7 linked regions of the Homo sapiens genome follow. The protein of the gene in region 7 interacts with the protein of the main gene of each other region in a pairwise test. Each region holds a gene or a part of one and is shown on either strand. Other genes may lie near its edges.

Region 1 (3,900 bases), on a different chromosome or scaffold from region 7:
TGACATGATACATTTATCATACATAGCACCGTGCCTGGCACATACAAAGTATTAAATGGATAGTAACCAACAATCAAAATTAAACGAATCAGGCCGGGCACAGTGCCTCACACCTGTAATCCCAGCACTTTGGGAGGCCAAGGCGGGCAAATCACTTGAGGTCAGGAGATCGAGACCAGCCTGGCCAACATGGTGAAACCCCGTCTCTACTAAAAATACAAAAATTAGCTGGGCGTGGTGGCGTGCACCTGTAATCCCAGCTACTCGGGAGGCTGAGACAGGAGAATCACTTGAACCCGGGAGGCGGAGGCTGCAGTGAGCCAAGATCATGCCACTGCATTCCAGCCCAGCCTGGACAACAAAGTAAAGACTCTGTCTCAAAATAATAATAATGATAATAATTAATTAAAAGAATCTGGAGAGATAGGGGATCTGCTTCTCTAAGAAGTGGGGACTCTGATTCCATTCTAGCTAAGGCACTGACTGGAGTATTAGTGATGGGATAAGTTAATTTTAGGCAACAAATTTTCTTTGTACTATAAAATTTTCTTTACATCAAAGAAAAAAACATGAAAAAACTGACCCCGTGTAACATTAAGCTATGCCAGGTCTGACACTAAACTCTATCCGATTCAAAACCATCCCTCTTTTCCCCAGATCTTTGTCAAGGCTTGGTATCCTTTGTCAAAAGATACCACAGGTTTAACAAAATCTACCTCCCCACTCCCCAGCTTAGGTCTACTAAGCACACGACCTAAGCCTAGACTTTCTACTTCAATAGGTACTTAACAGTACCTCCCCTCCTCCAAGCATTTTAAATGAAAGCTGGCCGGGCGCGGTGGCTCAGGCCTCTAATCCCAGCACTTTGGGAGGCCGAGGCGGGAGGATCACGAGGTCAGGAGATCGAGACCGTCCTGGCCAACATGGTGAAACTCTGTCTCTGCTAAAAATACAAAAAAATAGCTGGGTGTGGTGGCGGGCGCCTGTAATCCCAGCTACTCGGGAGGCTGAGGCACAAGAATCGCCTGAACCCAGGAGATAGAGGTTGCAGTGAGCTGAGATTGCACCACTGCACTCCAGCCTGGGAAACAGAGCGAGACTCTGTCTCAAAAAAAAAAAAAAAAAAAAAAAAAAAAAAAAAAATGCAAGCCTTTCAGCTCACAAAAATGGCTAAGTGAAAAAGTTTGCTGTAGAGGGCTACATCCTGCTGAGCTCCAGGGACCCAGCATAGACGTGGATAATTCCTTGTCCCCTGTACCATGGACGCATCGATCTGAGCCAGGAGGCGGGGGTTGTTCTGTTCCACTGCTTCCAGGCACTGCAGCATGGCCGTGACATGAGCGTCACTTAGCAGGAAGGCAGCATCTGGGGAGAGAAAAGCTGCCACAGTGATAGAGCCCATCAGGGAGGCCTTGAGAGAAGCTTGAGGAAGCAGAAAGGGAGAGGTAAGGATGAATGAGGAGGAGGGTGAAGGCAGATCAGAAACAAAGTAGAGGAGAAGCTGAAGAACGCGAGGTGCAGCAAAATGGCCAGGGCAAGAGGCTTCAACGTCAGAAAAATCCAGATTTGAATCCTGGCTCTGAGTGACTTTGGCCAAGTCGCCTAACCTCCTGGAGCCCTGTGGATTGGAAACAGTAGCACCAATGCCCAACTCTCGGGGCTGCTGTGAAGATACTGGACAGCAGTGACGGGCACACAGGAAACTCGTGGTAAATGGTGGCTATTCTTACGGTTTGTGTGTGTGGCCGTAGGGGACGACCTTAACATAAAGCTGGATTGTGTCTTACTTGGGAGGTGAGAGGTAAGTCTGGATATATGTTTCTGAGTAGAATCCCTATGGCATCAAGTGAAAAACAGGAGGCCCTGCCGGGCACGGTAGTCACGCCTGTAATCCCAGCACTTTGGGAGGCCAAAGCGGGCAGATCACCTGAGGTTGGGAGTTCGAGACCTGCCTGACCAACATGGAGAAACCCCATTTCTACTAAAATTACAAAATTAGCTGGGCATGGTGGCACATGCCTGTAATCCCAGCTACTCAGGAGGCTGAGCCGGGAGAATTGCTTGAACCCAGGAGGCGGAGGTTGCAGTGAGCCGAGATCACGCCATTGCACTCCAGCCTGGGTGACAAGAGCGTAAGTCCATCTCAAAGAAAAAAAGAAAAATAGGAGGCCCTGGTACCAGAGGGGTAGAGGATAGTGAGGTGGGTGACAACGAGGAAGCACAGATGACAGTCCTAAGTGGCCTCTACCTACCTGTGTAGAATTTTCTGATATACTGTCTATCCCCGAGCAGGGGCCGGAGCTGGGCTGAGAGGCAGTGGTACTGCAGGCTGTGCTGCAGCCACAGCTCGGCAACAGCACGTTCACTGGCACCATCAGCACTGCTCTGGTCGTTCTCGTGCACGCTGATGAACTGGGAAGCAAAGGGGCATGAGTCAAAACACACATCCTGGTAGATACGGCAAGATTGAGGCCTAATGACCTGAGAACTAAATTGAGACAGGTAAGGGAAATGCTTTGAAAGGCTTCACCCTGGGTCCCATGTAGGCAGGCTTTTTTGAAAATAGCAAAACTTTTTTTCCCTTCCCCAGAGGAGAAAAAGTGGCCTGGACCAATGGGTTTGCATGTTTTTTTTTTTTAAGCAAATAAAGTCAGTCCCTACAGGGATAATTAATTTCCTTTCCTCAGCTGATAGGCAACTGGACATATTCCCTCCTTGGAGCCTAGAAGATTCTTCTGACAGAGCCTCAAACAGTGAAGACCCACAGCTCTGCCAGCACAGCCGCTCTGCTCTCACTCTTACCTTCTCCACGTGAAGGGCTGAGTGGGGACTGAGCCACCGGATGTCTTTCACGAACTGCCAGTAATCCGTCTGGCGGCGGCACGCCTGCAAAGGGAACACATACAATGAGCAAATCACGACCATTCTGGACCAGATCTAGTTCTAGGGTTGGCATTCAAAGATAGGAAAAGGACCACAACCTTCCCTTGCCTCATCAAAGGTTCTTAGCAGCAATCAAAGGATACACACAGAGGCCAGGGGTGGTGGCTCACACCTGTAAACCCAGCACTTCAGGAGGACTGCTTGAGTCCAGGTAGACTGGCCCATCTCTACAAACAATTTAAAGCTTACCCCGAGTGGTGGGACATGCCTTAGTCCCAGCTACTCAGGAGGCTGAGGTGGGAGAATCACTTGAACCTGGGAGGTCAAAGCTGCAGTGAGCCATGATTGTGCCACTGCACTCCTGCCCAGGCAACAGAGTGAGACCCTAACTCAGAAAAAAAAAAAAAAAAAAGAAAAGGAATTAAAAAAAAAAAAGGAATACTACACTTGACATATGTTTACCCTTTTAAAGAATAATTGTTAAAGATTATTTTAACCATTCTTTTGAACAGGTAACATATGCATATGACATACAAGGTATACAGTAAAAATAATGTTTTCTTTTTCTTTTTGTTTGAGACAGAGTCACTCTGTCACCCAGGCTGGAGTGCAGTGGCGTGATCCAGCTCACTGCAACCTCCACCTCCCATGCTGAGGCGATTCTCATGCCTCAGCCTCCCGAACAGCTAGAACTACAGGCACATGACATCACGCCTGGCTAATTTTTGTATTTTTAGTAGAGATGGGGTTTTACCATGTTGGCCAGGCTGGTCTCAAACTCCGAGCCTCAAGTGATCTGCCCGCCTTGGGTCACTTGTGTTGGGATTACAGGCATGAGCCACCGTACCCGGCTGAAAATAATGGTTTCTACTCCTTTCTCTCTACCGTTCTGTTTTCTAAAAAATAATTCTTAAAACTGGTAAAGAGCTATTGTTAAAAGCCAGAGCTGGATGTCTTTAGCCCCTACTGCAAAAGCAAAATCAAATAAGGAAACATCTACTTTTCCACGCCACCCAG
Region 2 (3,900 bases), on a different chromosome or scaffold from region 7:
GCCTCTTGCCTGAAGCTCTGAGCTGAGGGCCCTTAGCACGTGGCTGTCCCTGGTTGTCTGGTCTAGGGTGTGTGAGCAGCCTCCAGAAGGTCCTCAAACTCCCTAAAACTGCCCCCCTGATTTTGAGTGTGAGCATTTTTCTGGGGAAAGGGCCCCAGCTTTAATTTGATTTGTAGAGGGTGTGGCCTGGGGGCCCTAGGGCTTGCTTAGTGTCCTGCGGCAGGTCAGTGGCAGGTCAGCAGCTGCATGGGCCTGCCTCCTGGCCATTGTTCCACACAGGAAGTGGGGGATGAGAGCCAGTGTGTTTCATGGGGTTGGGGCACTTGGCTGGGGTGTGGGTCTGGGGGCAAGATCTTGGGCCCAGGGTCTACCTGTATGGGCCAGGCTCAGCCCCTTGAAGACCCCTAGTCATGGGGGTGGGAGTAGGTCTTGGGAATGGCCTCCGTCTGCTGCCCTGGATGGTGGGTGAGGGCCAGAGCACGAGTGTGTGCCTGGTGCTTGTTTAGGAATAATCCTGGGTGAACTTGTCCAGTCACACCCTTCTCCACTTAGCTTATTAGCTTACTTGTACCCCAGATACTCCCTGGAGGGTGGGTAGGGCTTGTGGGGCCACACCCACTCTGCCGATGGGGAGACAGAGATCCAGAGAGGGTCGAGGCCCCGGGCCAGCATGGCAGAGCTGGTCAGGTGGGTTTGGAGGGCTGAGAGCTGCGTGTCCCCTTCCTTCCCACACCCAGGGTGGGCCCCTAGCCAGACCCTGAGGTGGCCCTGCCCTGTGATCCCCAGGAGGCGAGCCGGCCGGGGGCCCCGGGCTCCGAGCGCATCCTGCTGGACATCCTAGAGCATGACTGGCGGGAGGCGCAGGACAGCAGGCAGGAGCTGTGCCAGAAGCTGCATGCCGTGCAGGGGGAGCTGCAGTGGGCCGAGGAGCTGCGCGACCAGGTGGGGCCCTGCCCGTGCCCTGCCCCTTGTGCGGGAGGGTGTCAGGCAGGGCCTGTGTGCTCACGCCTTCCCTGAGCATCTGCTTGACGCAGGCGCCGCGCTGAGAACTGCATTCATTTGTTCTCAGATGTTGACGGAGGCACCCTTCTAGGCGCTTGAGATGCCGCAGTGAGCAAAACAAAGGTGCCTTTTCCTTGAGGGGGAACTCCAGCAGGGGAGACTGGCAGTATGTGAGATACACAGTCCCACGTCAGCTATTTCATGTAGTCAAAGGCGATGAGCACCGTGGGAGATGCAGAGCTGGGGAAGGGGCCGGTTGCAGTTTGAGTGGGGAGGCCAAGGGTGGCCGGATGGGTGAAATGATGATCATTCTTCTCGTTTTACAGATTAGGCAGTTGAGGGCCTGTGAGGTAAAGTCAGTGGCTCAGACCACTCCACTGGGCAGGAGGGGACTTGTTATTGGGTCTCAGACTGTTGGTGAGCGTCTCTCACTGGCCCTCCTGGGCACCTGCTGGTTAGCTTTCTCATGGTCCCCAGCCCTGTGGTCTGACCCCGCCCCGTGCCACCCTCAGTACCTGCAGGAGATGGAAGACCTGCGGCTCAAGCACCGCACGCTGCAGAAGGACTGTGACCTGTACAAGCACCGCATGGCCACTGTCCTGGCCCAACTGGAGGAGATTGAGAAGGAGCGAGACCAGGTGAGCCCAGCCTGCGTGTACGAGGCCCTGGGCCAGTTGCTGCTTCCCATATGGGAGGAGACAAGGAGCAATGGAGGGGACTAGAATGGTAGAAAGAGACGTTAGCCGCTCCCTGTTGGGTTAGGACGGGGCACAAAGGCTGGGGGAACCAGACAGGAGACCTGGAGCCCTTGAGATACCAGCCTTACACCCTGGACCCACTGGCCTCATCTGAGCTCCTGTGGCAGTTACAGAAGCTGGTCCTGGTGTCTTCATTTTTGAATCCCTTGTTCTGTCCATCTCAAAGACAAGGCCAGCACAGAGGGAGTGCTTACAAATAGAAGCCGATGAAGAAATTCTCAAAAGTTTTGGCTTTCAGTCCCTGGGCACTATGACCCTTGTCTCCTGCCAAGGTTGTGGGGTGGGCTGAGGACCTCCGGCCAGTGCCACCAGGCCCCCGAGCCTCCTTGTGTGAGGTTCCATCTGCAGCGGGGAAGGGCAGGAGGTTTTTGTCCTTAACCAGGTGTGAATCCCACTAGAGGAGTTGAAGTCTGTATATTATTGTTGTTATTACTTTTTGAGACTGAATCTAGCTCTGTTGCCCAGGTTGGAGTGCAGTGGTGCAATCTCAGCTCACTGAGGCCTCCCAGATTCAAGTGATTCTCCTGCCTCAGCCTCCCAAGTAGCTGGTATTACAGGCATGCCACCATTCCTGGCTAATTTTTGTATCTTTAGTAGAGACAGGGTTTCACTATATTGACCAGGCTGGTCTTGAACTCCTGGGCTCAACTGATCCACCTGCCTCAGCCTCCCAAAGTGCTGGGATCAAAGGCATGAGCTCCCATGCCCAGCCGAAGTCTGCATATTAGAAATGCCCTCAGAATCCCCTGGCAAGCTTGAAAGTGCAAATTTGGGGCTTCATTCTCTGGACGTTCTGATTCAGGTGGTCTGGGGTGGGCCCCAGGAATCTGCATTTTATGGGGCTGCCCCCGGCTCTCTCTGAGGCATGGGTGACAGGTCTGGACCATGGGCCCAGCTCTGGAGCCCCTGGTCTTCACTGTGGATGCAGTGGGCTGGGTTTGACTCCTGGCTTCTCCACTGACTGGGATGCTGGGAGTGAAGCCCCTGGCACACAGCAGGTCTCGTGGAAAAGTTTTCAGTTCTTGGTGAAATGGTGAGAGCCTGGATTCTGCAGATGGACTGCCCGATTTGAATCCCAGCTCTGTCGCTCCTGGCTTGGTTTCCCCAGTCTGCAGAATGAGAATAATGATATTAATAGTATCTAACTTAGCCAGTTAGTGTGAAGATATTTAAATGAGCTGATAATTTAGCTCAGGGCCCGGCACACAGTGCTCAGTAAGTGATAGCTGCCATTCTCCTTACTGTCCCCATTCTCCAAGTCATAGGCCAGGAAAGCTGGGCCAAGGTGGCTCCTTCAGCTGCTGCCTCCCCTCCCCCAACCCTAGGCCATCCAGAGCCGTGACCGGATCCAGTTGCAGTACTCACAGAGCCTCATCGAGAAGGACCAGTACCGCAAGCAGGTGCGGGGCCTGGAGGCGGAGCGGGATGAGCTGCTGACAACGCTCACCAGCCTGGAGGGCACCAAGGCTCTGCTGGAGGTTCAGCTGCAGCGGGCCCAGGGTGGCACCTGCCTCAAGGTGAGCGGGTCAAGATTGTGGAGGTCCTGGCAGGAAGGCTGGGGTCCTGGCAGGAGCTCTTGGCCAGGGCTGGGAACGTGCCGGCCCTGGTGGGAGACCTCAGCCAGGGGAGGAAGCTTGGGGGAAGTGGGAAGAGTCCTCAGTTAGGGGCGGGAACTTGAACCCAGGCTGGGCTGGGTGTGGGCTGGTGAGCAGGCGGAGGGGCATGTTGGTCTCTGAGTTTCTGGGGTTGCTTCTGGGACACTAAGAATAGTTTGGAGCTGGTCTTTGCATTTAACTGGGGAAGGCTGGCTGCCTGAGTGCCTGTGTGCATGTTAGAATGCAAAACCTGGGCCTCAGAGACCAGCTAGTCAGGACTAACATGGGCCTAAGCATCCCTCAGAGACCAGCTGGTCTAATCCTCTCATCGCACAGGGCCCAGAGAGGGTGAGGGGCTTGCCCAAGGCCACACAGCCAGCTAGCACTGGAGCTGGAGTCCCAGACCCACTGTAAATTGGATCGTGGTCCTCAGGCTGCTGCCGGGAGCTCTGCTTTTTCCTTTTTTTTTTTTTTTTGAGACAGAATCTTGCTGTATCACCCAGGCTGGATCCCAGGTTCAAGTTATTCTCGTGCCTTAGCCTCCC
Region 3 (4,533 bases), on a different chromosome or scaffold from region 7:
AGGAGGGGCAGCTTGGGAGGCATAGGGGGCTGCCCCCAGCACTGCGGGGGCCACACGTGTGTCACATGTGTGGATCTCTCTGGAGCCCCGGGAGGGCCTTTGCGTGGCTGTGCAAATGTGAGACCCACTTATCTCAGGAACTCCCACCCAGACCTGGCTCGGTCCCACAGCCTCCATCCCCAGCCCTGCATGTTGGATGTGCCCAGGCCGAGCCCCAGGAACGCCTGGGGCACTATCAGGGCCCTCACCAAACAGCCCCGTGCAGCCTGGGGTGGATTCCCCTGTAGGGGCCTTCCCAGGCTCACCTCCTTGCTGGAAGCAGCTTCCCTCCCAACCTGAAATCCCAGGCCCCGTGTGGCCTCCTCCCAGGCTTTCCCCGCTGGCCACTGACCACACTGCAGGCCACCGATGCGGGGGCCCAGAGCATGGCCCAAGAGGCTGGGGAGAGCCAGACCAGACCAGCCATGGGGATTCAAATCCTTTATTGACGGTGGTGGTGAGGCCAGCCCTCCCTGGCAGGCTCTGGGTGCATCTCCCTAGTATGTTCTGCTGGGAGCCGGGCACCGGGGCAGGCGTAGGGGCAGCGAGTGGCCTAGGACTCGGACTCAAACATCTTCTTCCGGCCCTCCATGCCAGACTTCTCCTCGATGTTCTTCCTCCAGTCACCCACGTCTCGCAGGTCCCGCTCCTGTGGAGGAGAGGGCAGGAGAGAGCTCAGGCTCACCCACTTATGCACGCACCCTGGTCCACACCACCTTCAGCCTCAGTTTACCCTCTGCATTGGGCAGTGGAGTGTCCCCTGCATGGCACCCTGGAGGGGCAGTGGTACAGGGCCCCCGGCAGGGCAGGTGTGGGAGGTGGTCCCCAGGCGGGGCAGGTGTGGGAGGTGCTTCCCCGGCAGGGTAGGTGTGGTGGTGCTCCCCCCGTGGCACGCACCTTCTCTGTGTCCTCCTTCTTGACCTGCTTCAGGTTGGCCCTCAGGTCCATGCACACCTTGTGCTTCGAGCCCAGCAGGGCCTTGAGCATGGCATCGGCCGACATGCGCACCCTCCGCAGTGGGGGCCGCTTGAACTTGCCCCGCAGATCAAATAGCTTCTGGTTCATGTCCTCCAGCTGTGGGCAGGGGAGCCGGGTGGGAGCCCGAGGTCCCGGTGGTCTCGGCCTCCCCGGCCCGCCCCGCCTGCCCGCTGGGCCACCGCCTACCCGCCTGCCGCCGGCCCGCCGCCACCACTCACCTCCTTGCTGGTCTTCTGCACCCTCACCTCCATGTCGTACTTCTCCTCTTCAGCCGCATCGATCTTGGCGTGCAGCTGTTTGCAGAGCTCCTAGGGGTGGGTGTGGGGGCGGGCGGCCGTCCTGACACTTGGCAGCCACGGTCACCTGCCCCTGCCCTGACCACCCCACTGGCCCTCTTGACAAGTGGGGAAACTGAGTTAGCAGGCAGGCCTGCTGCTGGGGAGGCGGGGTGGCCGGGGAGGGGCTGGTACCTGCACTTCAGACATGGAGCCCGGGATATGCAGCGGCGGGCAGTGCTCCGCCAGGTAGTTCTGCTTCTCTGCCTCACGGCGGCTCTCCTCCTTCTCCAGCTCCGTGGCCGCTATCTGCAGCATCACACTCTGCGGTGGGGCAGGCGGTGAGGGGCTGCAGCCAGCTCCCCTGCAGACCCACCTGGGCCACCCCCCCGGGAGCCCACACCTACCTTCAGGTGCTGCCTGCGGGCCGTGATGGCCCTGTTCCGCTTCTGCAGGGCAGGGGACAGGGGGTCGAGTCAGGGCCTCCAGGCCTGGAGCACCCCCACCCCCTTCCACGCTCCCTGGCCAGGTCAGGGGCTCCGGCTCCGGGACCAGCAGAGCCTGGGGGCTCCTGAGGCCATGATGGGCAGGCTGGGCCTCCCTGGCCCCAGACCTTGCACTGGGACATGGTGCTGTGTGGTGTGTGACACTTTGCCAGGTGGCACATGGTGCTGGGAGGCCAGAGGCTGGGGGAGAGGAGGGCCAGTTGGGGGCAGGTCGGCCGGTGAGGTGGGGGCGGGAAGTGCAGGAATCAGAAAGAAGAAGTGATTCCCCTGTGACCAGGCCACAGCCACACTTCCCCTGCCCCAGAAGGCTTGGGGCAGCCACTTCCTCTCTTTCAGCAGCGTCTTGGTGGGTGGGTGGGGCACTTTTGCCAGCGGGGAGGGCCAGGCCATCTTCTCTGGGCCTTAGGGCCTTGAGGCTGTGACCTATGACCTATGCTGAGTTGGGGGAGCCCCCTCCTCGTCATGTTTTGAGCCCCCAGCAACTACTTACCTCCTCACTGTCCAGGGAGGGAGGACGCAGGCAGGACGGGGAGAGAAGACAGAGGTTAGGGCCATGGCTGGCGGGGTCGGAGTGTGTGATGGGGTGGACAGGGCAGGAGGTGGGCAGGGTCACTGTATGGGGGTACAGGGGTACCACTTACTCTCCCATCCTGAGGTCCTGAGCTTGGAGCCTGTGGGGAGAGGAAGACAGAGGTGTTGGCCAGGCCCTTGCCACCGTGATGCCTGTGCCCATCAGGTAGGTGGTGAGGGGTTCAGGGCTCCTGATGACAGCCCCCTCCCGCCCACCCCCTACTCTCACCTCCTCCCCCTACTCTCACCTCCTTCAAGGACAATGTCTTGGAATTCCCCAGGGTGAGAAGTAAGAGGAGAAAGTGTTCCCAAAATGTCCCAGGCATAGCCTGAGGAGCTGCAGCTGTCCCCGAGGGAGGGTGGGATGGGCCAGCGCAGGTGGCCGCCTGAGTGACGCTGTTATTTTTAACCCTCTCTCTTTGGCTTTGGGCCTAAGTGCATGGAAGAAATCCCTCCTCAGTTTGGCCTGGGGGCTCAGGTTCTGGGGCTTCTTGACCCCTAAACTCTCCTTCCAGGGTCCCCAGAGGTGAAGCCTGGTGGTCAGGGAGTGTCTAATACCTGCCTCTCGCTACAGCTGCCTCCCCAAAGCCTCTCCTTCTCACTCCCGGACCCGTGCAGGCCCCAAAGGGGGCTGCTGGTGGCATCCCCCAGGCCCCCAGACCCCCGCCCCAGGAAGTCCTCCCTCAAACCAGCTCGAGCCACGCCCTGTCCCCCGGCCTCGGCGGGCCGGGCTGGGCCTCACCTAGAATCTGGGCAGCAGGGCTGGGAGCGAGGTCAGGCCGGCAGCGGCGAGTTGGGCTGGTGGGCCCAGGGGGAGGGGTATAAATGGCCTCCCCCAGGCTGGGCCCCTGCTCAGAAAGGGCATAGAGTCCTCCTCAGACCAATGGGGGCGTGGAGAGCCACAGAGACCTCCCCACCTGTCCGGCCGCCTGGCCTGGCCGCGTGCTGCCGCCCAGTCCAAGAAGTCTTGGTGGGGGGTGCCGTGGCTGGGCTACTCTATTTAGGGCTCGGTGACGCGCTGGAGATGCCTCTGTCGTTCTCGTAAGGAGCCTGAGGACAGTGTCCCTGGCTTTGCCTGTGGCCTCAGCCGGGCACACAGCTCGGGTCAGCTGAGGGGTAGCTGCGAGTATCCACACCTCGCCTCAGCCCATCTCACCCGAGGTCAGCGTCCAGTCCACCAACCTGGCTGCTTGCTGGCGACAGCCACAGCCTCTCCCTGCGGGGCCAGCTCCCCGGCTCAGCCCCTGCAATGGGTTTCCCACTTCAGCCCAGGCCTGACCCCCTTCTGCAAGCCTGGCTTCTGGGGTGAGGCCTGGACCTCCAGATGTGGCCTTCTGGGCCCTGCCACAGTGGCCGAGGGCTGGGGGCTGCCCCCTCCCTGCGTGATGCTATCTTCCTGCCTGGGGAGCAGGACCAGGAGTGAGGGGCACGCCGCACGTGCCTCTGGGCCCCTCCCGCCTGCCCAGAACGCCCTGCTGCAGTCCCCTTGCCGGGCGACTTGGAACACATCCTTCAACCTAAGGAGAATGGCGCCACCTGCATTGGGAGCCTCTCACACCCGTGGGGGCTTGGGGCCCTCCTGGCTGCCCGGGCAGGCCTGGCATTGCCCTTTTCACCCAGGCCCGAGGCCATCGCCCCCCCAGCCCCCAGGCCCCCGCCCTGCAGAGGTCCCCTGGACCGTGACTTGGCACCCTCTCGGAGTGGGGGCTCTTGGCCCCAGCCCTGCCGGCTTCGCAGCCCCGTGGGGAGGATCAGAGGAGACAGCAGCGTGGAGGCCCCAGCCGCTAAGGCAGCCCAGATGTGTGGGGACTGGGAGGGGCATCCGGCCAGGACTGAGCCCCTAAAGGCCCCAGCGGCTTCCGAAGGCATCTGCTGCCCCCTGCTGCTCATGCAGGGAAGGCCCTGCAGCACAGGTCTCTGAGGTGTTGGGGGTCCTCCCTCCATGCTCACCAGCCCCCAGACACCATTGCCCACTCTGTCCCTACAGGGCTGGCTCTAGCCCGCCCCATCCCATGTGGTCCCGACTCTCTGGCCCCCACCTCCCCGGTCTTCCCAGGCGGCCCGGAGAGGGGAGATCTGTGCTCCCCGGGGAGGTTCCCCACCCCTACCCGAGGGTCAAGCAGGGACCGGTCAGAGGCCTCAGGGCCTGGCTGAGTCTGGAGAGG
Region 4 (3,900 bases), on a different chromosome or scaffold from region 7:
AGCTGGGACTACAGGCACCCGCTCCCGCACTCGGCTAATTTTTTGTGTTTTTAGTAGAGACGGGGTTTCACCATGTTAGCCAGGATGGTCTCGATCTCCTGACCTCGTGATCCACCCGCCTTGGCCTCCCAAAGTGCTGGGATTACAAGCGTGAGCCACCGCGCCCGGCCAATTTTTGTATTTTTAGTAGAGATGGGGTTTCATCATGTTGGCCTGGCTAGTTTCTTTCTTTTCTTTTCTTTTCTTTTTTTGAGACAGAGTCTCCCTCTGTCACCAGGCTGGAGGCGTGATCTCGGCTCACTGCAACCTCCACCTCCCAGGTTCAAGCGATTTTCCTGCCTCAGCCTCTCGTGTAGCTGGGACTACAGGTGCATGCCACCATGCCCAGCTAATTTTTTGAATTTTTAGTAGAGACAGGGTTTCACCATGTTGGCCAGGATGGTCTCAATCTCTTGACCTTGTGATCTGCCCGCCTCGGCCTCCCAAAGTGCTGGGATTACAGGCGTGAGCCACCGCACCTGGCCAACACACTTTTACTTATTCATTTAAACATGTTTACAGGCATCTTCTTGGTGCCAGGCCCTGTACCAGGCTCTGGGCACACAGCAGTGACCACGAAGCTAGCAATCCAGTGTTTGGGCGTGGCTTCAGCTTCCTTCCAAGCTAAGGAAGGGGTTAGGGCTTTTGCCATGGGGGATTGGGCAGCCACTGAAGGCTCCCCAATGGGCAAAGTGAGCAAAGTGGTCAGGTCTGCGTGTGAAAAGGCGCGAGGAAGGGTGTTTGGGCCAATGGGCCCCAGTGCTAGGGGACCTGTGAGATTGCAACACAGGTAGGAACTGAGTCATCCTGCACAGGCAGTTTCCAGTCCCATTTCTGTACAGACAAGGACCCTGAAATTCAGGGAGGAAGAGTAATTTGCTCAGAGACCCATTATGAGGATGGGGGGTGGGGAGAACACTGCTGGGTAGACATGGGGTCAGGCGTTGTGCAAGACAGGCCCAGGGTAAGGGGGTTCTGGCGAATGTGAGAGGGAAGGTGAGAGACCATCTCTGGGGTCCACTCTGTGGGGTGTGGCTGAGATGCTGTCTAGCCGGGCGACCTGCCTACTTTCCAGCTGTGTGGCTTGGGGCAAGTTACTTAACCTCTCTGAGTCTCAGTTTTCTCACTTGTAAAACTGGAATAAAAATTGTACCTGCCTTGGCTGGGCACAGTGGCTCACACCTGTAATCCCAGCACTTCGGGAGGCTGAGGTGGGCGGATGACCGGAGGTCAGGAGTTCGAGACCAGCCTGGCCAACATGGCAAAACCCCAACTCTACTAAAAACACAAAATTAGTCGGGTGTGGTGGCACGCACCTGTAATCCCAGCTACTCGGGAGGCTGAGGTAGGAGAATTGCTTGAACCCAGGAGGCAGAGGTTGCAGTGAGCCAAGATCGCGCCACTGCAGTCCAGTCTGGGTGACAGAGCAAGACTCCGTCTCAAAAAAAAAAAAAAAAAAAAAAAAATTGTACCTGCCTCACAGGATCCTGTAAGATAATGAGCGTAGGGAGCTTGGGGCAATGCCTGGCACCTAGAATGGACCTGTTCCATGGGAGGGAATGGCAGCAGGTAGGCAGTGAAGGTGAGGGTAGGGCTGGCGGGCTGGAAGAGCCGGCTCCAAGGACTGAGAGGGTGGGGGAAGCTAGGGACAAAGGGGGAATTTTGTGAGATTTCCTGGTTGGAGCAGGAGAAGGTGGCTGGCCAGGGGGAGGTCAGGGAACCAGGGGGTCTCAGGTTGTCCACTGGGTGGGGAAGCCTCCCAGGCTTGGGGGAGGGGGTTCTAGGAGGGCTGTGGCCAGGGCCCGGAGGAGGGCAGGGCAGGGGCTGGGCGGGAGGTTCTATTCACCGTGCCTCCTACCCCAGTACTTGCGCTAGTGGCTGTCAGCCAGCCAGGCAGCAGTGCCTCATCGGACTTGTAGTTTTTCAGGGAGAGGTGGTGGCCAAGAGTGTCAGGAGGTGCAGTGCCCCTTGGGCAAGGCCTAGGTGCAGTTATTAAGCCAGGAAGGTAGTTTTCAGCAGCAAGGCTTGTAGGCTTGGTTTCCAAGGCAGGATTTGGCTGGCAGCTGGTCATGGGCAGCTGTCCCCGAAGCTTCATCCTGCCAGGCCCCCCATGTGGCAGAATGGTTTGGTCTCCCTCCCTCTGGGGCACACAGGCCAGAATGGGCCTCCCGTCTCCTTCCAAAGTGGTGCAGCCCAACCGCCAAAGGCCACAGGTCACCTAGCTGGCAGCATCCTGGCGCCCCCTGCCCCCCCAGCCCCCACTGTCAGCTCCTGACTTCCTGTCCCTCCAGCCCTCCGTGGCCTTTTCCCTGTAGCCAAGGTCTCTCACCCGACCCACCTCTGCTGAGCCTCTCTAGCTGTCTCGCTGTCACATGGCTGGGGTGGCAGCCCACCGGGCGCATCCACCTTTCACTGCGCACATGAAGAACCGTGGGCTCAGAGAGGTGACGGCACTTGCCCAACATGTGTCACCTACCGACTCCCAGCCCAGGGGCCTTCCTCATGCCCTGCCAGGCTTACAACACCCAGCTCTTTCATGCCCAATTTCAAGGGCCCCAGGCTTTGCTCCCATTTTATAGATGGGGAAGTAGAGCCCAAAGGCTTAATGATACGTGCCCAGGATGGCAGGTCAAGGACAGAAAGGCAGCTCTCTTGACTCTCAGGCCTCTGTCTCCGGCTGTCTCCTGCCCCCTTGCCCTGAGCCTGCTCTGCTTGCCCTCAGGAGCTGGAGAAAGCTGTGGTGCGGGGCAAGGAGTTGGGGGACCGGCTGGAGCATTTGCAGCGTGAGCTGGAGCAGGCGGCTCTCGAGCGCCAGGAATTTCTGCGAGAAAAGGAAAGCCAGCACCAGAGGTGGGGACAGGGCTGAGGGGAAGAATGAGGGAGGCAGGGGTGTGGTGGGGCGAGGGTGGGGTGGGGCTGGGTGCTAAGGATTCTCCTGGCAGGTACCAGGGCTTGGAGCAGCGGCTGGAAGCTGAGCTGCAGGCGGCGGCGACCAGCAAGGAGGAGGCGCTGATGGAGCTCAAGACCAGGGCCCTGCAGCTGGAAGAGGAGCTGTTCCAGGTGATGCCTGCCCGCCTGGGAGCTGGGGGCCATGCCACCCTGCCCTCCATCCCATGAGCAGATGCCAGGGTCATCTGTCCTCCTAGTCTTGCCTCTGGATTCTTGGCTAGCTACTTGCCTCACTCCCCATGTGGGGCCTGTTGGAGAGAGCACTGTGCTGGGAGTCAGGTGGCCGTGTTGACTTATCTGGGGTCTCATTTTCCCCATTCTGCACATGGACAGAACTTCTGCTGTGGATGACTGCTCCGCCTGTCTCACCCGAGGTCCTCCACTGCCTAGGGAGCTCAGTGTTTGGCATCAAGGAAGCCAGCGATGGTTTCTGATACCCAGGCTGTGTGCGGGCTCCACACGGAGGGTGGGGTGGTGGTGGGGCCCAATCCCAGGCTGCCATCCTCAGGGAGCTCACAGGACAGTCAGGATAGAGGCAAGAAAACAGGTGACAATAACTAGGTGCCAGGGGCTGTGAGGAGGCCATGCAGGGGCTTGGGAGGGTGGTACCCAGCAAGATACCCAGCAGGTGCATGCGAGTCTATCAGGGAAGGTTTTGTGGAGAAGGTGGGGTTGAAACAGAGGCTTAGAGAAGGCCCCACACAGCAGCTCATGCCTGTAATCCCAGCACTTTGGGAGGCCAAGGCAGGTGGATCACCTGAGGTCAGGAGTTCGAGACCAGCATGACCAATATGGTGAAACCCCATCTCTACTAAAAATACAAAAATCAGGCCGGGCGTGGTGGCTCACGCCTGTAATCCCAGCACTTTGGGAGGCCGAGGCAGATGGATCATGAGGTCAGGAGATCGAGAG
Region 5 (3,900 bases), on a different chromosome or scaffold from region 7:
TGGCTGCCAGCTAGGACCAGCTGCATGGTTTGCGGGGCTCAGTGCCAAGTGAGAATGCAGGGTCCCTTGTTCCAAAGTTACTGGTTATTCACAACAGCAACAGCAGAGCCTTAAATTAAGTACAGGGCATTTCAGCATGCGACTGCCATAGTTACATGCCCATGATCCTGGCCCTGCTATCAGCAGAGCCTGGCAAGGAGAGCTGGAAGCCTCGTTTCCTACTCTATAAAATCTAGGCCACTATAGATTTACCTGAAGGCAAATGAGAAATGTCACTGTTGGGAAGAGAATAGAGGCTGCACTCACACAATGTTTTTCTGCTCTTTGGTGAAGCAAAAAAGAAAGCCAATAAAGACCTAGGAGAGGCCCGGACCATCTGTGAGGCCCTGCAGAAGGAACTGGACTCGCGTAAGAGAGCCGGGGGTCACCCAGAGGTCCCCACAGTGTCTTAAGCCTCCCCTAACCCTGTATTCCAGATAATCAGCATCCTTGCCATGGCCAAGGGTCCTGTACCCTCTCTAGCCTCATGTCCTGCCAATCTCCCCCTCTCCTCTCTGCTTGTGGGAGTGTTCAGGAAACACCCTCCAACCTCATTCCCACCTCAGGGCTTTTGCCAGACGCTGTCTGTGCTTCCTCAGATAATACAGGTTCCTCTTTCCTCACATCATCAGCTCTAAGTTAGAATGTCCCCAGACAGGATGACTGGCATTCCCCAATCATCCCATTTAAAGATGGCACCCTGCCTCCATCTGGTCACATGCCCCATCCTATTTGATGTGTTTCTTTATAGCCCTTATCCCACTTCGTGGGTGTTGGTATTTTTTCTCTCCTCCCCATGTAAAAGCACGAGCATCCTCCAGGGCCCTCACAGCCACCCTCTGTAAATGTGAAGGCCCTTTGGTGCTTACAAGGAATGTGGGCACCAGAGGGTAGGGAGGGGCTCACCTCAAGGGTTCACATTTGGGTTGGGGCCAAGGCTGTGCCCAGCTTCCCATGTGACCGTGAGCAAGCCCCATCCCTGAGGGTGCAGTGCATAGTCCCTGATGCCAAAATGTGTCACTGTTTTCTAGTGCATGGAGAGAAAGTACACCTGAAGGAGATCTTGAGCAAAAAACAAGGTATTTGCCGCTCCCCTGTCTCCAGGCTTGTGCCTTTGCCAACCCACAGAAGCCCACTCTCCCTATGGCAGCTGAAGCCTTTTGAAACCTGTCCCAGCTTGCCTCTCTCCTGTGGCTTCCACCAGACATGTAGTAAATGTTAAAGCTCAATCAGGTGTCCACAGACCTGACATGATCTGGCTGTGTTCCCCCTGCCAAAACCCAATACCTTGACAGGTTCTCATAGGGCCCTGTTGCTCTCCCTACAGAGACCCTGAGGATCCTCCGGCTGCATTGCCAGGAAAAGGAAAGTGAGGCACACAGGTAAGAGCTTCCAGCTGAGCCTAACTCTGCACTACCTCTTTATTCTGGTAGAGCAGAAAGAGGCAGGAAGATGAATCTGAGACCCACAGCTCTCATTGTTTCCCTCTAAACAATGGAGAGTCCAAAGAATGTCTTTCCCCTTCGGCTCCAACAGCTGGCAGTAGTGTTAAGGGAAACTCTCTCAATGGCAAGACATTCATTTGCTAAATTGTCAATTAAATTTCTTCAGCTGGTTTTTATTTTTTGCCTTTTACTCTTTGTCATACTCCTTGGATGTCTATTCACTCATCTGTCTGTTCATTTAGGCATTGAGCCAACCATTTGTCCATTCTCTCTCCATTCATCCATTATCTTTTCATCCACCCATCGATTTGTCCATCCATTTCTCCACCTCCTGATTTAGCTCATTTGTTACCAGAGGCCCCAGGCCCTGGCACACTGAGATTTCAGCTCTTTGGGAAAACGAGATGATACTAAGATGTGTGTGCATTTGCTCACTTAACCATGTCCACATTAATCTCTCTTAACCTGACAACAATACTTCCAGGGGGCAAATGGTCATGTCACTCCCTACTTACCACATGTTACAGAGAAGGACCTTAATGTAGAGGGAAAAAATAGCCTCAATAGAGGGAGGCAGAAGCCCCAGCCCAGTGCCCTCCTGGGGCTTAAGAGAACATGGCTGAGGGCTGCCTCGCCTCTCCCAGGAAGCACACCATGTTGCAGGAGTGCAAGGAGAGAATTTCTGCCCTGAACTTGCAGATTGAAGAAGAGAAGAACAAACAGAGACAGCTGAGGTAAACCTTAGCATCTGAGGCAGGGGGTTTGGATGGCCAGTAGTTGGGATATAATGTCAAAGATGGGGGTTAGAAAAGCTGGCTACACTGAGCCATGGAGATTCAAGGTGGTGAAGATGTTCCCAGTGGAGCAGAGACCATGGGCAAAGCACCCCAAAATCTGCCTGAAGAACCACAGACTTGGACAGGCTGTGAAGGTGGTGATTTCAGCCCATATCCCCTCATGCCTGTGGTTGGTTCCCAGGTTGGCATTCGAGGAACAGCTGGAAGATCTGATGGGCCAGCACAAGGACCTCTGGGACTTCCACGTGAGTCCCTCAAAGCCACTCCTCCCCCTTCCACATCTTCCCTAGCAGCACCAGGCCCAAACGGTCACTTCTTCCTCTCACCTGCCACAACCAGTCGCCAAGCAAGCCCTGGTGGTGCTAAGATCGACATTGCCTGAATCCAGTCCCTTGTCACCTCCTTGTGACCCTGCTGCTCAGTGGTCAGGGGGATCTCTGATGAGACCAAGGTCAAGTCTTCCATCACTGTCCGTGGATGTGTCTGGGACCATCACGGGCACAAAGGAGACAACGAGGATAAGCAGCCCGTGTTTGTCCCCCAGGAGGATCCTAGGCACTGAACAAGAAAATAGACAGTGAGTGTCAGGAAGGAAGGGCTCAGTGAGGAGGTCACACCAGGACAGAGGGGAGTGGGGAGGAGCTGCAGAGCTAAACCGGTACCTGATCCTCCAGAAAACAGCCAAGACTCACAGTGCTTGCAGGTTTATCTGTTGTAAATAACAATCCATGAGCATCCCCACTGCAGTACCGCAGAGATGTGGGATGACAGAAGTGCACAGGGAGGGAATGGCCAGTGCCATGGCCCTGAGGCTGTACTGTAGCTGGTGTGCACAGAGGGGCAGAGTTGTTGGAAGTGAGGCATAGTGAGTAAGTATGAAACAAGATCCAGATAGCCTTCTTTGAGGCATGGGGGAAAGCCAAGAGGAGTGGACAGGCCTCTTTTCTGCCCCTCAGATGCCAGAGCGGCTGGCAAAGGAGATTTGTGCCCTGGACAGCAGCAAGGAGCAGCTGCTCAAGGAAGGTGAGACCAGGGAAGGTGGATGGCCCATATCTGACCTCACGTGCCTTCATGTGCTCACCTGCCCCTTTGTGCTGCAGAGAAGCTGGTCAAGGCGACACTGGAAGACGTGAAGCATCAGCTGTGCTCCCTGTGTGGGGCTGAGGGCCCCTCCACCCTTGATGAGGGACTCTTTCTCCGCAGCCAGGAGGCTGCAGCCACAGTGTAAGATGTGGAGGGGAAGAGGGTGGGAGGAGGGAGTGGCCGGTGCTGACCACCCCCTACTGGGCCCCCCAGGCAGCTGTTTCAGGAAGAGCACAGGAAGGCTGAGGAGCTCCTAGCAGCTGCTGCCCAGCGCCACCAGCAGCTGCAGCAGAAGTGCCAACAACAGCAGCAGAAGCGGCAGAGGTGCGTGTGGAGGCCCTGTCCCCGCAACCCCCACCAGGAAGATGACTGATGTTGTATCTCCTCTCTCCACCTTCTGTCTCTCTGACTCTTGAAAACCTCTTGTCCCTCCTCCACCCTTTCCTCCTCTTCCTTCCCCCATCCTACCTCTTCCTGTCCAGGCTGAAGGAAGAGCTGGAAAAGCATGGAATGCAAGTCCCTGCCCAAGCCCAGAG
Region 6 (3,900 bases), on a different chromosome or scaffold from region 7:
ACACTCATAGCCTCCCCCACTGTCAACATCTTGCATCAAGGTGGTACATTTGCTACAATCTATAAGCCTACCCTGACATGTCATTATCACCCAGAGGCCATAGTTTACAGTGAAGGTTGCAGTGAGCCGAGATCATGCCACTGCACTCCAGCCTGGGTGACAGAGCGAGACTGTCTCAAAAATAAAATAAATTTCACTCTTGGTGGTGTTCATATGTTTTTACTTTCTTTGTGTTTTCTGTAATTATCCAAAAGTTTCATATTCCAAAGTTTTAGTGACACAAGCTTAGTACAGTATTTGAATGAAAACTTAAATAATTTGCATTTCTTCATAAGCAACCAAATTTTATTTGTCAGCATTAGGAATTTATTTATTAATTTATGTTTTTGAGACAGAGTCTTGCTCTGTTACCCAGTCTGGAGTGCAATGGCGCAGTCTTGGCTCACTGCAACCTCTGCCTCCTGTGTTCAAGCAATTCTCCTGCCTCAGCCTCCCAAGTAGCTGGGATTACAGGTGCCCACCACTACACCTGGCTAACTTTTTTATTTTTAGTAGAGAGGAGGTTTCACCATGTTGGCCAGGCTGGTCTCGAATCCTGACCCCAGGTGATCTGCCCACCTCAATCTCCCAAAGAGCTGGGATAACAAGCATGAGCCCTCGTGTCTGGCCTGGAATTCATTTTTGATACATCATTCTCTAACTTTCTAATCACTTTATACTTTTACTTATTGTGTAATAGTCAATAATACAATTATATAGCAGGAATTAATCCTATTCATACAACTTAACGGTTTCTACTAATGTAAAATGCCCATGCAGAATATTTACTTTAAAGGAAAACCAATTGAAAACAAATATCAGTGTTCTCAGAGCAGACATAGTGAATGGTATATACTGTAGTAGAAATATATTTTAATAGCTACCCAAAATGTCTGTTAAACAATATTTTAAGTACACTTTAATTACGGTTTTAAGGACAGTAAAAATCTATTTACATTTTTAAACAATGAATACTTTTTAAAAAATTGTAATTGAATGACCCAGGAACTCAGTCATGTAGTCATTGGTTCATCAGATATTTCAGTGTCATCTGTAAGGCATTAAACATTTAGGCATATCATCTTTGATGTGAAGTACTTAGAAGTTAATTAGATGATAAAGATATTTTATCCTTTTGACCTTGATATGTTTATAGTAATTTATTTAACAGTGTAAGAAAGAGCTTGAAATTTGCTTTATTAGCATAGTTATAATCTTATTTAATCTGAAGGATGTTTCTTAATTTCATATTCAGAAACATATCCTAATTTATCATTTAAACACTGATATAAAAATATGTCTACTTAGTAACCTATTTTTTCTTAAGGTATTTACTATGCAGGATCTATTACAACTCATTAAAATCAACCCTACTTCCAGTCTCTACAAATCACTGGTAAGATGGCTTAGTTTCTGTAATCTACTTTGGTTTGTTAATTATAACTGAATAGCTGAATAAAAGTGAAATATTTTCTTTTAACAGGTTTCAGGATCTGATAAAGAAAATCAAAAAGGTAGGAGCCGTCATCTTTGTAGAGAACAGCAACAGTTTTCTATGTACTTTTTCCTCTAAAAGAATGAAGCAAATTTTTAGGGAGAAGAGTAAAATTTAATTTGATTTAAATTATTTGATTTCTGCAGGTCATTTCCCCTATATTTCCATTTTTGTAATAACTTTTAGATATTCAATTAAAAAAACTGTAGACAGTATCAAAGGCCCTACAGACAGGCTGAAAGATACTGTTTGTAAAAATACCCACTGTTGGGAATATTTCTGCAAAAAAAAAAAAAAAAAACTAATAACTTTTAGGCCAAGTGTCTTTGTATACTAGGTATCCCTCTCAAGTATAATTGGTAGGGTATTAGATGTATTAATATTTCCTTAAAGAATGAGAGTTGTGTTCAGTAATGTGTTATATATCTTTTGTTCTTAAATGTTTATACAGGCCGGGCGTGGTGGCTCATGCCTGTAATCCCAGCACTTTGGGAGGCTGAGGCGGGTGGATCACCTGAGGTCGGGAGTTCGAGATCAGCCTGACCAACCTGGAGAAACCCCGTTTCTACTAAAAATACAAAAAAATTAGCTAGGCGTAGTGGCGCATGCTTGTAATCACAGCTACTCAGGAGGCTGAGGCAGGAGAATCGCTTGAACCCGGAAGGCAGAGGTTGCGGTGAGCTGAGATCACGCCATTGCACTCCTGCCTGGGCAACAAGAGCAAAACTCCGTCTCAAAAAAAAAAAAAATGTTTATATAGACCTAATAAATTGCCTTAATTTTGGCCTTGATAATAGCCATTCATAGAGTCCATAACTACTGTGGGTTTCAGGCCATTGGTTAGACTTGATGATGGGCTTTGTAGCATGAACATAAGCTGGCAACTTGGCTTTGATGCATAGTTATTCTTTAGGTCTTTTAAAATAATCTGTTAGTAATAGTCCTTTTGTGTTGGTACACCCTTGGATTTTGTCTGTTGCCTGCACTATCATCCCCACAAGGACATTCATTTATTCATCCATTCATTCGCCAATTCATTTAGAACTTAATCATTTGAATACTTATTTTCTGCCAGCCATTAAGTCTGTGACTTAATCGCCAAGTCTCTTGGTAGTAATGTTAGCAGAATATAAATAAATTGGAGCACAAGATATTCTGGACTGCCCGCAAACTAGACCATCTCTACTGAAGTTCAGTATGGTAAATGATCCTATATTCTGTACTCTAAGTGTCGTCCAGTGTGACTCTCTGTGATTATGGAAATGTCTGTGTCTATGCTGTTTAATGTGGTAGCTGCTATCCTCATGTGGCTTTTGAGCCTTGAAATGTGGCTAGTGTGACTGGATAACTGAATTTTTAATTTACATTTAATTAGCTACACTTGCATAGTGACTACCATATTAGCATAATTCTGAGGTATATAGCTAGTATCTTTTGCTTAACTATTACTTCAAAAGGAAATTTGTGGCTTGAAGGGATATTAAGAAATAATCTATGGGCCAGGCACGGTGGCTCATGCTTGTAATCCCAGCACTTTGGGAGGGCAAACCTGGCTGATCACTTGAGGTCAGGGGTTCAAGACCAGCCTGGCCAACATGGTGAAACCCCATCTCTACTAAAAATACAAAAATTAGCCAGGCGTGGTGGTGAGTGCCTGTAATCCCAGCTACTTGGGAGGCTGAGGCAGGAGAATCGCTTGAACCAGAGAGGCGAAGGTTGCGGTGAGCCAAGATAGCGCCACTGCACTCCAGCCTGGGTGACAGAGCTGGACTCCATCTCAAAAAAAAAAAAAAAATCTATGTAGTTACTATAGATACATTATCCTTAAAAGTAGTTTTTCCATGGCCGGGCGCAGTGGCTCACGCCTGTAATCCCAGCACTTTGGGAGGCTGAGGCGGGCGGATCACGAGGTCGGGAGAGCAAGACCATCCTGGCCAACATGGTGAAACCCCGTCTCTACTAAAATACAAAAAAAAGTTAGCCAGGCCTGGTGGCGTGCACCTGTAGTCCCAGCTATTTGGGAGGCTGAGGCAGGGGAATCGCTTGAACCCAGGAGGCAGAGGTTACAGTGAGCCAAGATCACGCCACTGCGCTCCAGCCTAGCGACAGAGCAAGACTCCGTCTCAAAAAAAAAAAAATAGTTTTTACACAGTCTCTTTAAATGCATCTGGTTCAGAAAGACATCTGGCCGACAGCCCTTACCAGCTTCACCTAGCATCCCAGTAAAATTTCTGGAAGCCAGAAAAACTATGAGTAGCAGATAGGTCAGGCATCCTAGTGCCAAAATTTGGATAGAACTCTTAGCTAACAAAATAGCTCCTGGTAAGATAAAATTTTTTTAAAAATTGGTGTCTTCTAATTAAGTA
Region 7 (3,900 bases):
TTGGTTGGGGATGAATTTATAGGTGTTTCCAAACTGTCTTCCTGTGCTGAGTCAGTTGTCTAGGTGAGAGTCATAGGACTAGTAGAGTCAGTTTCTTGGTATGAGGCATGTATCTGGGTGGCATCAGGAGGTTTGCCAGAATGCAGAAGCCTGGAAAATATCTCAAGACCAATCTTAGGTTTTACAATAGTGATGTTATCTAAAGGAGCAATTGGTGAAGTTACAAATCTTGTGACCTCTGGCTACATGACTTCTGAATAGTAAGAAATTATAGAAAAGCAAGGAACAGTAGCTGGTTATTGCTTACCTATGCCTATATTTTAGCAGATTTTAGGTCCCTCCCATAGTCCTAACCTTGCGGCCTTCTATTAGTCTTACAAGGCTGTTTTAGTCCCTAGAGGGGGTCAGTTTTGGAAGGGACTATTACCATCCTTGCTTCAAAGTTAAACTATAAATTTCTCCCATAGTTAGCTTGCCTATGCCCAGGTATGAGCAAGGGCAGTTAGCTTTGTGAGGTTAGAAGCAATATGGAGTCAGTTAGGTTAGATTTCTCTCACTGTTATAATTTTTGCAAAGGTGGATTCACTTCCAGACCCAGTGTAGGTGTCTTTTCTGTGATGCCTTCCTTCCCTACTCAAAGAGGGTTGAGTCGAGTCAGGTGCGGTGGCATATGTGTGTAGTCCCAGCTATTGAAGAGGCTGAGGTCAGAGGATTGCTTGAGGCCAAGAGTTCAAGGCCAGCCTGAGCAACATAGCGAGACCTTGTCTCTAAAAAAGTATAAATAAATACAAATTTAAAATCTATGCAGATATTCAGAGCTTTCCCCTCCACACTGTGAAATCAAGAAAAAAAGAAAAAGAGGTTGATTGTTCATTCTTTTTGTCACCATTTTATGTAGTATACATCTCTCCTATTGTACTTGCCTCATTCGGTTGAAATTATTTGTTTATAGATCTGTCACTCTTACTAAAATGTGAACTGTTGGAGGAATTCATGCTTATGTTGTTCACAGTATTGCCTAGATCATATTAGGCACTCAAATGTTTGCGGAATGAATACAAAATAAGAAAGAATGCGCTAAGTGGTCTGAGAGAATACAAAGTAATAGGGGGCAAATTGTACAATTGAGTCCCTGCTTCTCAGTCAGAGTCAGAAAAGTTGTCATGAAGAAAATGGAATAGAATTTCAATAGTTAGAATTCTATGACCTGTGCAATGGCATAGGGAGGTAGAAAGTGACATTTGCTCAATACTGTTTTTGGTTTTTGCCTGTCTTACATTATGTTATCAAACTTCCCAGGAATGCTAAGGGCAATGAATGAACTCCTGTTCCCACTCCTCCTGCCGGGATTGCAGGCTGGGGCTCTTTCAAATTAGGTGGTCAATGAAGGCCTCTCTGTGGAAAGAACTTTTATATTGAGACCTGCATAATATAATACAAAGTGCAGTGATCTGGAGGAGTCCAGGCCACGCTAACAACAAGATCAAATACCCTGAGGCAGAAAAGAGATTGGTATATTTTAGGAACTTATGGTTCAATGTAATAAAATAATAGAAACTGGGTGGTGGGATGGTGCAGGGGTGGCTGCAGTAGGGAAAATATGGTGCAAAATACCATGAAATGTGGTTAGGGAGGTAGGCAGAGGCCAGACCACACGTATACGTACAGCAGTGTTTCTCAAACTGTACCTGATGACTCATTACTCAAATTTGTGGTATGTAGCCAGCATTAAAAAGATGACATAAAATAGCAACTTAACATATTCACTACATGTTGTAAGGGTAACGTTCATGAACTTTTGTTTAATTGTATATGTATTGGATGTGTACTGGATTCTGATGTAAAATATATTTCTTACTGTGAGTCCTGATCCACAAAGTTCAAGACACAGGGTACTTTGAATAATATATACTTTATTTGTTTTATCTTATTATTTTATTTTTATTTATTTATTTTTTTTGAGACAGGATATTGCCCTGTCACCCAGCAGGAATGTAGTGGTGAGATCATGGCTCACTGCAGCCTCAACCTCCCAAGTTCAAGTGATCCTCCAGCCTCAGCCTTCCGAGCAGCTAGGATAATAGGTGTGTGCCATGATGCCCAGCTAATTTTTTTTTTTTTTCAGAGACAGGGTCTCACTATGCTGCCCAGCCTGGTCTTGGACCCCTGGGCTCAAGTGATCCTCCCACCTTGGCCTCTCAAAGTGTTGGGATTATGTTTATGTTAGCCACCACGTTCAGCTAATATATAGTTTAAAAGGCAAAATAGTTGAAATCTCAAGGCCTGCAGATATTCTTATTCCTCTTTTGATCTAGTGAAAATGTTCTTGTTGTATGGCAGATACAGCTTTGAATTAACGAAAGCCTAAAATTGGCTAGAGTAAAATTTTCAAGTTTCTTTGTGCATCCAGATCACTCTCCTCCATATTTGCCATCAATCATTTATGAGAAAGAACAGGCCTAAGAAACAGATGTCCCTTCTCTGTGTTCAGTCTAGCCACTGTTGTATGTATTGCAGCAAAGGATTATGGCCTCTCAATAAGCAGCTGAAGATGGAGGTTGTTTGCTCTGTTGGTGAGGCTTCCTGACCACTGCAGTTTATCTAATCAGCTTCTGTCTTCATCTAGTTTGTTATAGTTGAGGCTTCCAAATTCTGGAATCACCTTTATATTGTGAAGCAGAGATAGGGAACCATAGTTTAGCATGTTTCTCATACACCTCATTTAAGATGAAGCGTATGCTGGACTCATCAATTTCTTTTACATATTATAAAGAGGACAGAGAAGGTAATTCTAAGATATATTTGACAAAGATATTAATATTATGTATCTTCTAAAATATAGCATTTATTAGAATATCATTACTCCAGATGAACTGTTAGTGTAATAAAGGACTTTAAAGATTATTAGCTATGTTCCATAAGAACTAATCTAAACCTTTGAAGTAAAATGTCTCAAAGTTGTTTGTTTGTTTATGTATTTATTTATTTTTGAGACACAGTCTCACTCTATCACCCTGGCTGGAGTGCAGTGGTGTGATCTCGGGTCACTGCAACCTCTGCCTCCTGGGTTCAAGCGATTCTCCTGCCTCCACCTTGTGAGTAACTTGGATTACAGGCATGTGCCACCATGCCTGGCTAATTTTTGTGTTTTTAGTGGAGACAGGGTTTCACCATGTTGGCCAGGCTGGTCTCGAGCTCCTGACCTCAAGTGATCCACTTGCCTCGGCTTCCCCAAGTGCTGGGATTACAGGCATGAGTCAAAGTTGTTTTTAACAGAGTTTTCAAAGACAGTTTCATAATTACTGAAGAACAAAATTTTATTCCATGAAATGAAATGCTTTTCAGTTTCCAACTTTATGACGTTTCTCCTAATAGCTTTTCTGGTTTTGTTTTTAGCACCTGCCTTTTTTTTTTTTTAGACAGAGTTTTGTTCTGTCGACCCGGCTGTGGAGTGCAGTGGCGCGATTTCCACTCACTGCAACCTCTGCCTCCTGGGTTCAAGCAATTCTTGTGCCCCAGCCTCCCGAGTAGCTGGGACTACTGGCGCATGCCACCACGCCTGGCTAACTTTTGTATTTTTAGTAGAGACGGGGTTTCGCCATTTTGGCCAGGCTAGTCTCAAACTCCTGATCTCAGGTCATCCGCCTGCCTCGGCCTTCCAAACTGCTGGGATTATAGGCATGAAGCTTGGCACCCAGACAGCATCTGCTTTTTAGTCATCCAGAATTCCTTTTGTTACTTGAATTGCTGATTTGGAAGAATTGCAGTTCCAAAGATCCACAGGATTTTATTTACAAAAAGTGAATCAGAAAGCACAGGGCATAAATTGCAGATATGAAACTCTTAAAAGTTTATTTTCCTATATATTGTATTACAAATGCAGTTTAGAGCCTGTTATAT

Evidence for each region.
Region 1: the proteins of NME7 (region 7) and RUBCN interact in binary tests that used the Homo sapiens proteins (3 or more experiments, as listed by UniProt).
Region 2: the proteins of NME7 (region 7) and CARD10 interact in binary tests that used the Homo sapiens proteins (3 or more experiments, as listed by UniProt).
Region 3: the proteins of NME7 (region 7) and TNNI2 interact in binary tests that used the Homo sapiens proteins (3 or more experiments, as listed by UniProt).
Region 4: the proteins of NME7 (region 7) and CCDC88B interact in binary tests that used the Homo sapiens proteins (3 or more experiments, as listed by UniProt).
Region 5: the proteins of NME7 (region 7) and SYCE1 interact in binary tests that used the Homo sapiens proteins (3 or more experiments, as listed by UniProt).
Region 6: the proteins of NME7 (region 7) and OFD1 interact in binary tests that used the Homo sapiens proteins (3 or more experiments, as listed by UniProt).

What each region holds. Positions count from the first base shown.
Region 1 is NC_000003.12:197,702,290-197,706,189, forward strand, and holds part of RUBCN (run domain Beclin-1-interacting and cysteine-rich domain-containing protein), read right to left. Parts: intron 2,887-3,900; coding exon 2,803-2,886; intron 2,413-2,802; coding exon 2,253-2,412; intron 1,366-2,252; coding exon 1,259-1,365; intron 1-1,258.
Region 2 is NC_000022.11:37,505,569-37,509,468, reverse strand, and holds part of CARD10 (caspase recruitment domain-containing protein 10), read left to right. Parts: intron 1-786; coding exon 787-942; intron 943-1,514; coding exon 1,515-1,640; intron 1,641-3,085; coding exon 3,086-3,277; intron 3,278-3,900. UniProt on the Homo sapiens protein: Scaffold protein that plays an important role in mediating the activation of NF-kappa-B via BCL10 or EGFR.
Region 3 is NC_000011.10:1,837,611-1,842,143, reverse strand, and holds TNNI2 (troponin I, fast skeletal muscle), read right to left. Parts: upstream 3,164-4,533; 5' UTR 3,111-3,163; intron 2,676-3,110; exon of another isoform or gene 2,617-2,675; intron 2,470-2,616; 5' UTR 2,448-2,469; coding exon 2,440-2,447; intron 2,296-2,439; coding exon 2,289-2,295; intron 1,938-2,288; exon of another isoform or gene 1,921-1,937; coding exon of another isoform or gene 1,906-1,920; intron 1,742-1,905; coding exon 1,700-1,741; intron 1,617-1,699; coding exon 1,488-1,616; intron 1,326-1,487; coding exon 1,236-1,325; intron 1,114-1,235; coding exon 937-1,113; intron 689-936; coding exon 593-688; 3' UTR 466-592; downstream 1-465. UniProt on the Homo sapiens protein: Troponin I is the inhibitory subunit of troponin, the thin filament regulatory complex which confers calcium-sensitivity to striated muscle actomyosin ATPase activity.
Region 4 is NC_000011.10:64,346,570-64,350,469, forward strand, and holds part of CCDC88B (coiled-coil domain-containing protein 88B), read left to right. Parts: intron 1-2,761; coding exon 2,762-2,889; intron 2,890-2,981; coding exon 2,982-3,099; intron 3,100-3,900. UniProt on the Homo sapiens protein: Acts as a positive regulator of T-cell maturation and inflammatory function.
Region 5 is NC_000010.11:133,555,385-133,559,284, reverse strand, and holds part of SYCE1 (synaptonemal complex central element protein 1), read left to right. Parts: intron 1-333; coding exon 334-408; intron 409-1,070; coding exon 1,071-1,118; intron 1,119-1,366; coding exon 1,367-1,421; intron 1,422-2,128; coding exon 2,129-2,218; intron 2,219-2,462; coding exon 2,463-2,526; intron 2,527-3,237; coding exon 3,238-3,304; intron 3,305-3,381; coding exon 3,382-3,505; intron 3,506-3,577; coding exon 3,578-3,688; intron 3,689-3,846; coding exon 3,847-3,900. UniProt on the Homo sapiens protein: Major component of the transverse central element of synaptonemal complexes (SCS), formed between homologous chromosomes during meiotic prophase. Requires SYCP1 in order to be incorporated into the central element.
Region 6 is NC_000023.11:13,737,480-13,741,379, forward strand, and holds part of OFD1 (centriole and centriolar satellite protein OFD1), read left to right. Parts: intron 1-1,366; coding exon 1,367-1,435; intron 1,436-1,522; coding exon 1,523-1,553; intron 1,554-1,564; exon of another isoform or gene 1,565-2,734; intron 2,735-3,900. UniProt on the Homo sapiens protein: Component of the centrioles controlling mother and daughter centrioles length. Recruits to the centriole IFT88 and centriole distal appendage-specific proteins including CEP164. Involved in the biogenesis of the cilium, a centriole-associated function.
Region 7 is NC_000001.11:169,361,298-169,365,197, reverse strand, and holds part of NME7 (nucleoside diphosphate kinase homolog 7), read left to right. Parts: intron 1-3,900. UniProt on the Homo sapiens protein: Possesses an intrinsic kinase activity. Displays 3'-5' exonuclease activity with a preference for single-stranded DNA. Does not seem to have nucleoside diphosphate kinase activity.